Linked DNA regions of Homo sapiens. The protein of the gene in region 2 purifies or fractionates together with the protein of the main gene of each other region. This does not show direct contact. Each region holds a gene or a part of one and is shown on either strand. Other genes may lie near its edges.

Region 1 (3,753 bases), on a different chromosome or scaffold from region 2:
TTATGGGGTTTATCCAACCGTTTTTCACGTTCATAAGTTAGGTCTCTATTTTTCTCCTTTCCAGAAAATGTCTCTTTGCTGTTTTCTCTTACTAGACTAAAATCTTTCCGTATTGATTTAAAGACAGAAACCTGATCAAATTGTTTAGGAAAGTCTTTTTTTAACTTATTTTGAATTTGTATTTCATTTTCATTGTCTGATTCATGCTGTGTGACTCTTCTCTCTACTTCCAAGCTATCATCAGTATGAATTGAAGAAACAAGATTGTCCTTTGAACTAAAATCCTGTTCATCCTCATTGTCACTACCAACGACTGGAATTCCTGCAAGATCCCCAGAGTTCAAAAAATAATCATCTTCATCCAGCAATGAATTTTCAGATCCTGTTTGATTCGGCATTCCATAAGACATGCTGTCAAGGGTAGGAGTTAAGTTGTGGTCTATATCTTCAGACATTTCTGTATCCATGATACCACCACCTTAAAAAGTAAAATACTGTTTAGACAAATGATAGTGCTAAAGATGACCACAATGATAAGGTCAGTCTGGTATTTAACCAAATAAATATTTTTTCAAACAAAATACAGATATTACCATAGTATTCATTTAACACTTTGATATAGGTGTGACAGATATAACTATTCCTATCTGACAGTTAAGGAAACAAGGAGCCAAAACTTGAGAAACTACTTTAGGTTAGAAAAGAAAGCTACGTGATATAGAGAAAAGAGCACCAACTTCAGAATCAGACATATCTGTGTTGAAATCAAAGCATGATCCTGAAAATCTATGTAATCCTAAAAAGTAAACTCTCAGAGTCTATCTATACAACAGCATAATACTCACCTTGGAGATAAATTTGTGGTGAGGATTAGTGATAGTATGTACAAAAGACCTACTAACACAATGACTGACAAATAGAAGGGAATATAAAATGGTAATTATAATTATTATGGCGATTATTCAGGGAAAACTGAGATTAGCACTCAGGTCTTTGGTCTGAGTCCCATTTTCTCTGCACTAACACTAATAAACACTGACGGCAGTTAATACTTACACATAAAAATAAATTTTATCCAACCTAGAATAAAAGACTATTTACTGTTTAAAACTACTAATATATACTAATCTCTCCCATTCCAAAACAAAACAAAGCAATGCCCTCATTCATGCCCTAACCCTACAATGCCCTCATTCATCTTCCCTTCACAAACTTGTAGGAAAAAAATTCTACCTAGTTTGCTTCTACTTCATCTCTATCATTAACCCTTTGAGCTTAATACAATCAGCTCCCAACTTTCCACTGGAACTTTTCTCATTAACATCATCAATGATCTCCTAATGGTCAAAGCAAATTGACTTTTTTCAATTCCTAAATGGCATATCCCTCATGGATAAAATTCCTTTGGATTCTTTGGTACTCTTATTTCTTACTTTCCTTAATTGCCTTATAATTTATTTTATACTCTTCTTCTGTTCACATGGCTTCAATGTTAGCTTTTCTGCAAGATTCCTGTTCTCTTTACTTTTACACTCAGACTGAGCTATTTTGTTCACCTCCATAACACTTACCTTTGCTACTGACTTCCTAAGCACTTAAGCTTAGACCTTTCTTATAAGATTTCGGATGTCTATATTCAACTAGCTCCTACACGTTCTCCAACTTAGCATCTCTAAAATCAAAACTCATCATGTTCCCTCCCATTCCAAGCATATGCTTCTTATATTTCCCTCAGATGGTTAACAGATTCACCAAACCAGCAGTTGCTCAAGATTTCCCCCTGGACAAATTCTGTCAACTTTATTACTTATCTCTCTCAAATCCATCTTTTCCACTTAGCACCTAGTTCTAATACTCCACGTCTCCTCCTGGATTCTACAATACCTTCAAAGGTATACTAATTCAGTCCACATGGATACTCAGGAAGCAACCATACCCTTATAAACTCTATGCCTAAACCACATTTAATTGATACATCAGCAAACAAACTGGAACTGATAAAAATAGAGTGAGGCGAAGACTAAAAATATTAGTGGCACTGGCATCCTTGCTCTTATTTGTTCCTGAAGCCCAGTTACATCCTTCATGTGGCTGGTTCTTCAACCCTTCTCTGGATTATGGAATCCAATAAATTCCTTTTGTTAAGTTGATTTGAGTTGGATTATCTGTAATCAGGTCCCAACTGATACAGAACCCAAAGGAAAGCTTTCCTGGACCAGGCACAGTGGCTCACACCTATAATCTTAGCACTTTGGGAGGCTGAGGCCAGAGGATTGTTTGAGGCCAGGAGTTCAAGACCAGCCTGGGCAACATAGCAAAAGCCCATCTCTACAAAAAAAAATTTTGTTTTAATCAGCCAGGTGTAGTGGTACACACATGCAGTCCTAGCTACTCAGGAGGCTGAGGAAGGAGGATCACTTGAACCCAAGAGTTTGAGGCTGCAGCAAGCTATAATTGTGCCACTGCACTCCAGCCTGGGTGATGTGACAGGGCAACCCCCTGTTTCTTTCTTTTTTTTTTCTGAGCTTTGCTCAAGTTGCTCTCTTCCATAATGACATCAGAATTACCTTTCCAAAATATAAATCATTTCACATTACATCCTCCCTTGAGATTCTTCAATAGCTCCCCACTGCTTGAAGTATTCATTCATTCAGTACATATTTATTAGGAAACCACTCTGTGGTAGGTATTGCACTAGGTTCTAGGGATAAAATGATGAAAGAGATAGCTATGACTCTTCCTCCTCACAGAGCTAGAAAAAATAAACAGAAAATTAGAAACAGTATGAGGGTAAATAATGATTTGAGTCCATAATGTCAAAGGGAAGGAGATAAAAGCTTGTTTCTATCATAAGAACGTTTGCTAATAAACGTAGAGGCAATAATATAATTGGAAAAATTGTCTATACTTTCTAAAATAATCAATTGAGACAACAGATAGTAAAACAGATGCTAAAATCTTAGGAGATGTATGCTGAAGAACTTACAGGTGAGCCATCTCAACGTTTCATCATTAGTAGCTGACCACATAGCATGTGCTCTGTAATTTTTCATAAATGAAAAATTAGGTGTTTTATGTAGTCAGAACAATGAGTTCTATAGTGCATGAGAAGTCAATACTAAGAAGTAATATTGTAAGCAACTTTCCATATCACTACATTTACTTATTTATTTAGTTAGTTGGTTCATTTTTTGAGACAGGATCTGGCTCTGTCACCCAGGCTGGCGTGCAGTGGCATGATCTCAGCTTATTACAACCTCCGCCTCCAGGACTCAAGCAATCCTCCTACCTCAGCCTCTCAAGTGGCTGAGATAACAGGCGCATGCCGCCACATCTGGCTAATCTTTGTATTTTTTGTAGAGACCCAGTTTGGTCTTGAACTCCTGAGCTCAAGCAATCCGCCCACCTCAGCCTGCCAAACTGCTGGGATTACAGACATGAGCCACTGCACCCAGCCCCTTATCATTACATTTAAATTCAGGATATAGTATTTGAAGAAAAGGGTAGTCATATGGAAAAATGAGATCCCTAACTCACATCAAAAAATTTTACAGATGTATCTAAGTTTTAGGCATAAAGAAATAAAACAGTAATATTAAATAAACTACGGAAGAATTATTTTAGTAATATTAAAGAAACTATGGAAGAATTATTTTTGAGTCGCAGAGACAAGCCTTTCTAATAATGACCAAAAAAATCCAGAATAAAAGATCAAGTTATAAATAAAAATATAAAAGATCAAATGTGACTTTA
Region 2 (3,753 bases):
GAGTAGATAATGTTTGCCTTTTAAATCTTTTTAGTTATTCACACAATCATTATCACAACACTGTCACTCTTGGAATTTACCATAGAGTATTTGAGCAGTGAAGACTCATAGCATTTGGAAGTCATTTAGAAAAGAATCTGGAATATTTAGATGCATTTTTGTAGTAAATCTGGTGCTTAAACACTGTAAAATTAAATATTTACATCTGAATCCAGCATCCCATTTTGCTTTGTAAATGAGGCCAAAGATGAAATCCAGATGTTTTCCCTTGTATTTGTATTATCACTATATGGAATCTAAGTATATCTAAGAAAAACTAAACTTAAACTTACTTTGCTTATTTCATATTAGTTTTTATCTGTCTTCTGCAGTGTGTAATTAGATTCTTTAGTTTTCTGAATCAAATGCTTTGCCCCAACCCCTTTTTCCACGACTTTTTTCAGCTGTTTTCCCTTGAAATACTGACTTGGCTTTTAAAGATACATTTTATCACAATTGCAGAAATGTGTTGTATAAAAGTTTGTTAAACAGGGCTAACTGAAGTCTTAGATGTTGAACAGCTATGTGTAACCACAATTTATACTACTTGCAGCGAACTCAGATTATTTTCGGATGTTAAGTATGGCTTGAAACTATGTTAACTTGAAATGTAAAGAAACAGCAAAAGACAGGTGTATTTACCTAAAGATCACATATTAAGGAAACAGGCTTGGTTAATTCCTCACTATTGACATCTATTACTTGTCAATACATTTAACCAACCAATGATACTTTAAATCATAATGTTACTTTGAACAACCTACTTTAAAAGGTTGGTTCAAAAATGTTGAGGAGATAATGTATTGGTTGGGATTGACCTAAATTTACAAAGCAACCATGTGCTGTCTTATGCTACCCAGATTGTGGGAGCACCAAAAGCTATGTCCCTAGGACTACAAAGTGTGTTGTTTAAGGATCTTGCAGAGAGCCAATGCCCCTATTGGCAACATCACTTCTCATCCTTAAGTTTCACCAGTTGGGTGGCCTCAAGGCACTAGGATTCCCATTTTTTTTTTTATTCAGGTCAGAGAAGAGTCCATCACTGTGACTGGGAAGAATGTCAAGTCACAGGGTAACGGCGGACCTTAATAAAATCTCGGCCCCTCTGCACCGAATACCCCACCAGGAAGGGCTAAGGCATCCATGGGGTTGTGTCTCATCTCAAGTCGCTGTGTGAAGCACGAGGCCCTCACACCTCATTTAAGGCAGGAGGCGTCAGGGGCGACCGGCCAGGTGTCCCGGCGCCTTCCCGCCGCTTCTCAGCCGTGGAAGCGCGGGCATCTGAGCACGTGGAGCCGCCCCAGGCCGCCCCGCACACCCCTCCCGCCAGATGTAGTCCAGGCCCAGCTGGGCCCGCGCAGGGATCCCCAGCACGGCCACCTGACTGAGTGCTGGGCGTGCTGCGGCCCGCTGCTTCTGCCTCCGCCGCCGGCGCTGCGGCCAGAGGAAGGCGCCCGCCGAGCACACGGGCCCCGGGAGCGCACTGCGGCCATTATCCGCGGCGCCTCCTAGTGGGTCAATGGCAAATCCGCCTGGTTCTCGCGAGAGCTCCCCCCTCAGTGGGGATTATATAATTTCCCTCAAGCGGGGGTGGGGGTGCTGAGAGCACCCTCCCTCAGGAAAAGTTAGGTGCAAGCAGGGGTGGGAGTAAGAGGAACCCCCCCTGGGGAAAAGGGGGTTAGGGGTGCTGTCCCCACTGCCCCCCCCTATTTAGCTGGACAATGAGTCCTCTTATGCTAATGAGGCACTTACGTCACTTCCGCTCTTTCTCGGCCGCCATTTTGGCTAGGGCAGGTTCGGGGACTCGGTCCGAGGCGCTTGTATTGTCTGCTGAGGGGAGACGCGGGATCAGCCCCCTCCCCCGCCCGTTGCCGCCGCCGCCTCCGCCGGCCCGGTCTCCCCTCCGCCGCCCGCCGGGATCCATGAGCTGAACTCCCGCCCCCCCCCCCCCGGCCGCCGCCATCTTGTGCCCCCTCCCCCTCCCGCAGGCAGCGCTAAGGGGGATTTTGGCGTCTTCTCAGACACAGCTCCCTCTCTCGGTCCCCGCTGCTGAGGAGCGAGAGGAGCGCGGCCGCCGCCGCCCGCGCCGGTGAAGCCGCCTCTCCCACACCCTCCGTCTCCTCCCTCCGCCCCTCCTTTGTCTGCACCGCTCGACGACGCCGCCGCCGCCCGCCGCTCTGCTGCGCCCGCCGCGCCCCCCGGCAGCACCCGCGGCCGCGGCGCGAGCCGGAGTCCGCCGAGCCGGAGCGCGACGAGGCCCCGGGCGCGCCCTCCCCGCTGCCGCCACCGCCGTGCCGCCGCCATCCGCCCGCCGCCGCCGCCGCTGTCCGGCCCCCGAGCACGCCGGCCCCGCGCGCGCCTCGAGGCCGAGTCAAGGTAAGCCCGGCGCCGCCGCGCGCGGACCCGCGGCCCTGCCCTGCCTGGCTTCCCGACCCCGGCCCGCGCGGCCGCCAGTGCAGCCTGGCCCCGGGCGCGGGCGCATTGTTGTTCGCATCGCCGCCCTCCAGCCGCACACACGCTCCTTTGCACACCCCGGCGCCGACGGGTCCCCCGTCCCGGCACGGACCGCTACCCGACTCTGCTCCGGAGGTCCAGGCGCCTCCTCCTGCAGCCCGACCCCCTTCTCCGCCCTGTGAGCCCACCGAGGCCAGCACTCTGCCTGGCCGCCCGGAGCTTTTGCAGCTAAGGGCATCTCCCCCAGCCAGAACCGAGCTTCTCCCATCCTGGAACTAATCCCGTCCGCCCCCCACCCCCAAAAGGAGCCCCCCCACGCACACCCCCATGCCTTGAACCAGCCTTCTGCCAGGTCTGCCCACCCTTACCTGGGGGAGGGGGGACGGGGTTGGGGGGGGCGGGGAGCATGCATGGCATGGAGTGAGTCTTTGCCTCCCCTGTGCAATCCTTCTTCCCCAACCTGCCAGCTTTCCTCTTATCCTGACCACAGTTCACCACCATCCCTTTTCCCCAATCTCAGCTGCCTGGTCAGCACCTCTTTCGAACATTCTGAGCCCCAACTTTGCAGTAAGGTGGTAGAAAATGGAAATCCAGAGAGCTGCAAAAAGATTTTTTTTTAATGTAATGAATGGGGAGTAGTTTTGTGAACACACTCGTATTCACCTCTTCTTTCCTCTGGGAGGCCTGCCTGCCTTCCCCTCCCCCCCAACCTTGATCCCTGTCTGCTGGAAAAGGCGCGATTGCTTCTCTTCCTCTTCTGCCCAAGACCAAGACTCTAGGTCTGATATCCTTTTTAGCCACACACACACACCCCCCACACACGAAGTCTTCTTAATCTTCTTGAATTTACCAGTTACTCTGGACACTTCTTGCCATAACCCCATTTCACAGACAAAGGCTTAGGAGGGAAAAAGAACCAAACTGTTTCTGTGTTTGTCATGTTAATGATGTCCATCCCCACACACCCAGTTCCCATCCCTGATGCTTCTTGTGCCTGTATCTTGAACCTTCAGAATGAAAAAAAAAAAAATCTCTTGGATAGCTTGATACAGTTTCTTTAGAAATCTGCATTGTTGCTTCTGGTTTATGGCCATGGAGAAAATACCAGCCCCCACCCAAAATGCACCGCAGCCAAGTCGGCTAAAGGCGATGAGTGTTGGAGTCAGTAGGGGGCGCATTCTCTGCACTGGGTAAGGCTGCAGAGGGGGGAAGGGCCCCCGAGCTAGAACAGGATGTGCTTCACAGCGCCTTCTACAGACC
Region 3 (3,753 bases), on a different chromosome or scaffold from region 2:
TTATTGAAATTTTCTGTGTAAATCATCCTTTTATGTAGAGGATCCTATATAGATGTCCCCTTTTTGTGCAGTTTTAATATGTTAAATACTCAATTTTAAACAGATTTTCCCAAAGGTATGGGCAGTATCACAGGAGTGGGTTTGGATATTGGCATTAGAAAAACTATTGTAAAATATGTTCATGTTTCACCTGCTCAAAAATATAACATTTCAGGAGATAATAAATCTAGAATTGATGAAGATATTAAAACACTGAGGCATTTAGATTTCAATTTCCAAAGTTCCCAGATTTTTAATATTTTAACTTTGTGAATAAGTTTCTAGGGATTCTCAGTGCATGAGATTCTGTAACCTTAACTTTGGAGCCCTGGGTTCTAGAGATGATTGATCAGTCATAAGCTGGCAGAGTTGTCCTGCTTTCCAAGGTTATAATACCTTCAAATACTCATTGCTACAAAAATGATGGCATTCTCATTTCAAGTTTAGATCTGATCATTCATAAAACAGCCTAAACTTAAGAGTTTCCACAGTCCATAAAGCATCAAAAGCCATAAAATAATTCTTTTTTCCCTATTAAAGAAAAAGCCAAAAATATTTCTGTATTTTAGAATAAACATTTCCAGTTCCATTTTTAAAATATTAACAACATGTAAATTTAAATGCTTTTGTAACTGATAAAATGTTCTTTTGCATATTTCCCTACCATCCTCCTGCCCTTCTTCCTCAATTTGCTTTACACCCCTAACATTAACATTCTGTGAACAAATTTTTAAGGGTTGTTATAATGTATTCTATTTGTATCCTACAGTAATTTATTTGCATTTTAAAAGGAGTTTGAATACAGTGTGGCAATTTTGACAACCAGCAAGCTCATCAAAGTAAGATTCTACCTGTAATCTTATGATACACCAAATGCCTGCTCTATTCTGCCTAACACAGACAAGGATCCATCTTTACAGATGGAAAGAATAGCTGACATCTAGTAGCACTTACTCTTTGAGTTCCCTGAACTCTATTTCTAGTGTATGAATCACTCATAACCCACTTAAATTCAGATTGCTCACCAAAGCGATTAGGAAAAAGGTTTTTCCTACTGGGTACAAAGCATAAGGTATTTCACTCTTGTAGTTGTTGTGAATAACCTAGTTTCTGTACATAAGCTGGCTGGTCAGTGATTTATATCTAGGATAATGAAGTATGTGTGACTGCAGCAACATATTTAAACAAATGATGCACAATGTTGTACAGGAATATTACCTGTATTAAATAGGAGTAAAACATTTTCATTCATAGGCTGTCTAAATATCAATGGTTAAATTACTGAGTTTTGCTTTATTTTTACTCCAGAAGTATTTGTTGAGTTCCTACTACATGCGAGGCTCTTGACTGAGATAACTAATAAGATCCTTATAAGATTTTTCTATTCCAGAGTTTGGTTGTTTAGCTTTGAATTACCCATTCTTTAATACCTAACTTGACTTCTAGTAGTTCTTTACTTATTAGACTCTTCTTCTAAGGATAAACAGAAAAAGACTGTGTCCTAGATTTTACTTTTGAATAGGCAGGTGACAGGAAGCTGAAACCAGTGGCTTCAATGAGATTTAGGTTTCTTGTGGTTTTGAATTTTCTATATGACATTTCTGTTATCATTGCCATTTGACTAAGGAACTATGTTTACTGGTTTTGTAATAGTAGCATCTATTCTTTTGGAATCTGGACTTTGAACAATTCGTTTCACAGAGTCATTGAACAGCCAGTTCCTTCTCTCTTACTTAGAATTTTTCCAGGGAATTTTTCACATGGCAGGATAATGGAAGAAAAGCCATTTGGGTAACTCTTCTGTTACATTTGTATCCCTCCCCCCTTGGATCCCTACAGATAAATTCTTACCTTCTCTTCCTGCTAATTGACCAGCAGCACCCTGGATTGCTATCATCCCTTTGTCCAAAGAAATGGTGTAGCTGTATTCAAAGACCTATAAAATGTTATGTGCTATCTATTGCTACCTATAAAAAATACCTTTTTTTCTTTTTAAAATCAGGTTGTTTTAGAATAAATAAAGGAAAAGTCAATTAATGGAAAAATTTCAAGAACAGTTCACATAAAATTTTGGTCTATTTTAATTTTTTTTTTTACCTTTTCAAATCACATTTTAAAATAAGCAGTTGGAGAAAATGTAAAATGAAAAATATGTAAAGAATAGTTAGCATTAAACATCAGATCCAATTGTAAACTTACGTGAGATAATATGGATTTATATTTATTTTCTAGTAAAATAAAACTTATATGATTGCATAATTGATTATTGTATATGCAATACAAATTAAGTTCAAAAATGAAAGTTGAGCTTTTTTTGTCCTTTCAAATGTAGGGCCAGCATACAATTTTAAGAGCTATTTATTATAAAATTCATGGTGAATCACTATGAAAATTGATTTTTCCTTGAGCTTTTAATTACATTATCCATATTCCCTTACGAAGTTTTCCAAGTATAGAAGACCTACTTAATGGAGCAGTAATCAAATGCAAACTTAATTTAATGATCTCAAATAAAAGGTTCTACTTTTCTGGAAATAAGATTAAACCAGATATTAAAATTATGTATGATTATAAAAGTAAAGATTACCATTATTGTAATAATTGACCAATTTAGTACTTTCAAGTTATTTAGTTACATTTTCTCAGTTCTAGTTTGGTGTGGTAAAGCATTATTTGAAAAGGCAGTATAGGAAGAATACAGATAGTATTCTTCAGTACAGATAATACCGCTGTACAGTACAGATAATATTACTGCTATTACAGAATCAGCAAGTTGAATGCATGCTTCAGGGAATAGGGAAATGAATGCGGACTTTTTCTAACTGATTTAGATGGTCTGTCTGACCTCTCTAGAAAAATATGTGTGTATGTATATTTTGAAATATATAAGGAATGTTAAGTCTTTCTCTTCCCCTTTTTAGCCTTAGATTGTAAGCAAAAGAAATCAAGGTCAAGATCTGGAAGCAAGAAGAAAATGCTAACATTACCTCATGGTGCTGACGAGGTTTACATTCTCCGATGCAGGTATATGCCTATATTGCCAAATCTGATCAGTTTCTTCATACTTTGCTTTGAAACATATTAGCTATTTCATTTGGGATTTTTAATTTGTGGCAGAGTGCATTCTCAACAATCAAGTTATAAATGAACTTTTGGAGATAGGCTTAAAATCTTAATTCAGCTCACAATATCCGTACTTCAACAACTAATGAATCAAGTTTTTTACATTAGCCAATAGTAATGTAAATCTATTATACTGTGATTTATTAAAGTAGCTTGGCCAGGTGTGGTGGCTCATGCCTGTAATTCCAGCACTTTGGGTGGCCAAGATGGGTGGATCACTTGAGGCCAGGAGTTCAAGAGCAGCCTGGCCAACATGATGAAACCTCGTGTCTACTAAAAATACCAAAATTAGCCAGGCTTTGTAGCGGGTGCCTGTAATCCCAGCTACTTGGGAGGCTGAGGCAGGAGAATTGCTTGAGCCCAGGAGGCAGAGGTTGCAGTGGGCCGAGATCGTGCCACTGCACTCCAGCCTGAGCGACAGAGCAAGACTCTGTCTCAGAAAAAAGAAAAAAAAACTGGCTTTCCTTGTGTTTATTTGGTTTGTATGGTTTAATTTTGTTTGGTTTGATGTTTTGTTGTCTTGAGTTCTCGCTTATTGGGAACACATTTTCTCTCCCCTCATAGTCACGCCTTCTTCCGTACTCACACTCA

What was found.
Region 1: the proteins of ADNP (region 2) and ZMYM4 purify together in Homo sapiens (affinity purification with mass spectrometry; 2 studies listed by BioGRID and IntAct, with this or other methods). This does not show direct contact.
Region 3: the proteins of ADNP (region 2) and ZNF644 purify together in Homo sapiens (affinity purification with mass spectrometry; 3 studies listed by BioGRID and IntAct, with this or other methods). This does not show direct contact.

Annotation. Positions count from the first base shown.
Region 1 is NC_000001.11:35,355,650-35,359,402, reverse strand, and holds part of ZMYM4 (zinc finger MYM-type protein 4), read right to left. Parts: intron 582-3,753; exon of another isoform or gene 479-581; coding exon 1-478. UniProt on the Homo sapiens protein: Plays a role in the regulation of cell morphology and cytoskeletal organization.
Region 2 is NC_000020.11:50,929,488-50,933,240, reverse strand, and holds the start of ADNP (activity-dependent neuroprotector homeobox protein), read left to right. Parts: upstream 1-1,803; 5' UTR 1,804-2,415; intron 2,416-2,903; exon of another isoform or gene 2,904-3,753.
Region 3 is NC_000001.11:90,917,362-90,921,114, reverse strand, and holds part of ZNF644 (zinc finger protein 644), read left to right. Parts: intron 1-2,960; coding exon 2,961-3,063; intron 3,064-3,753.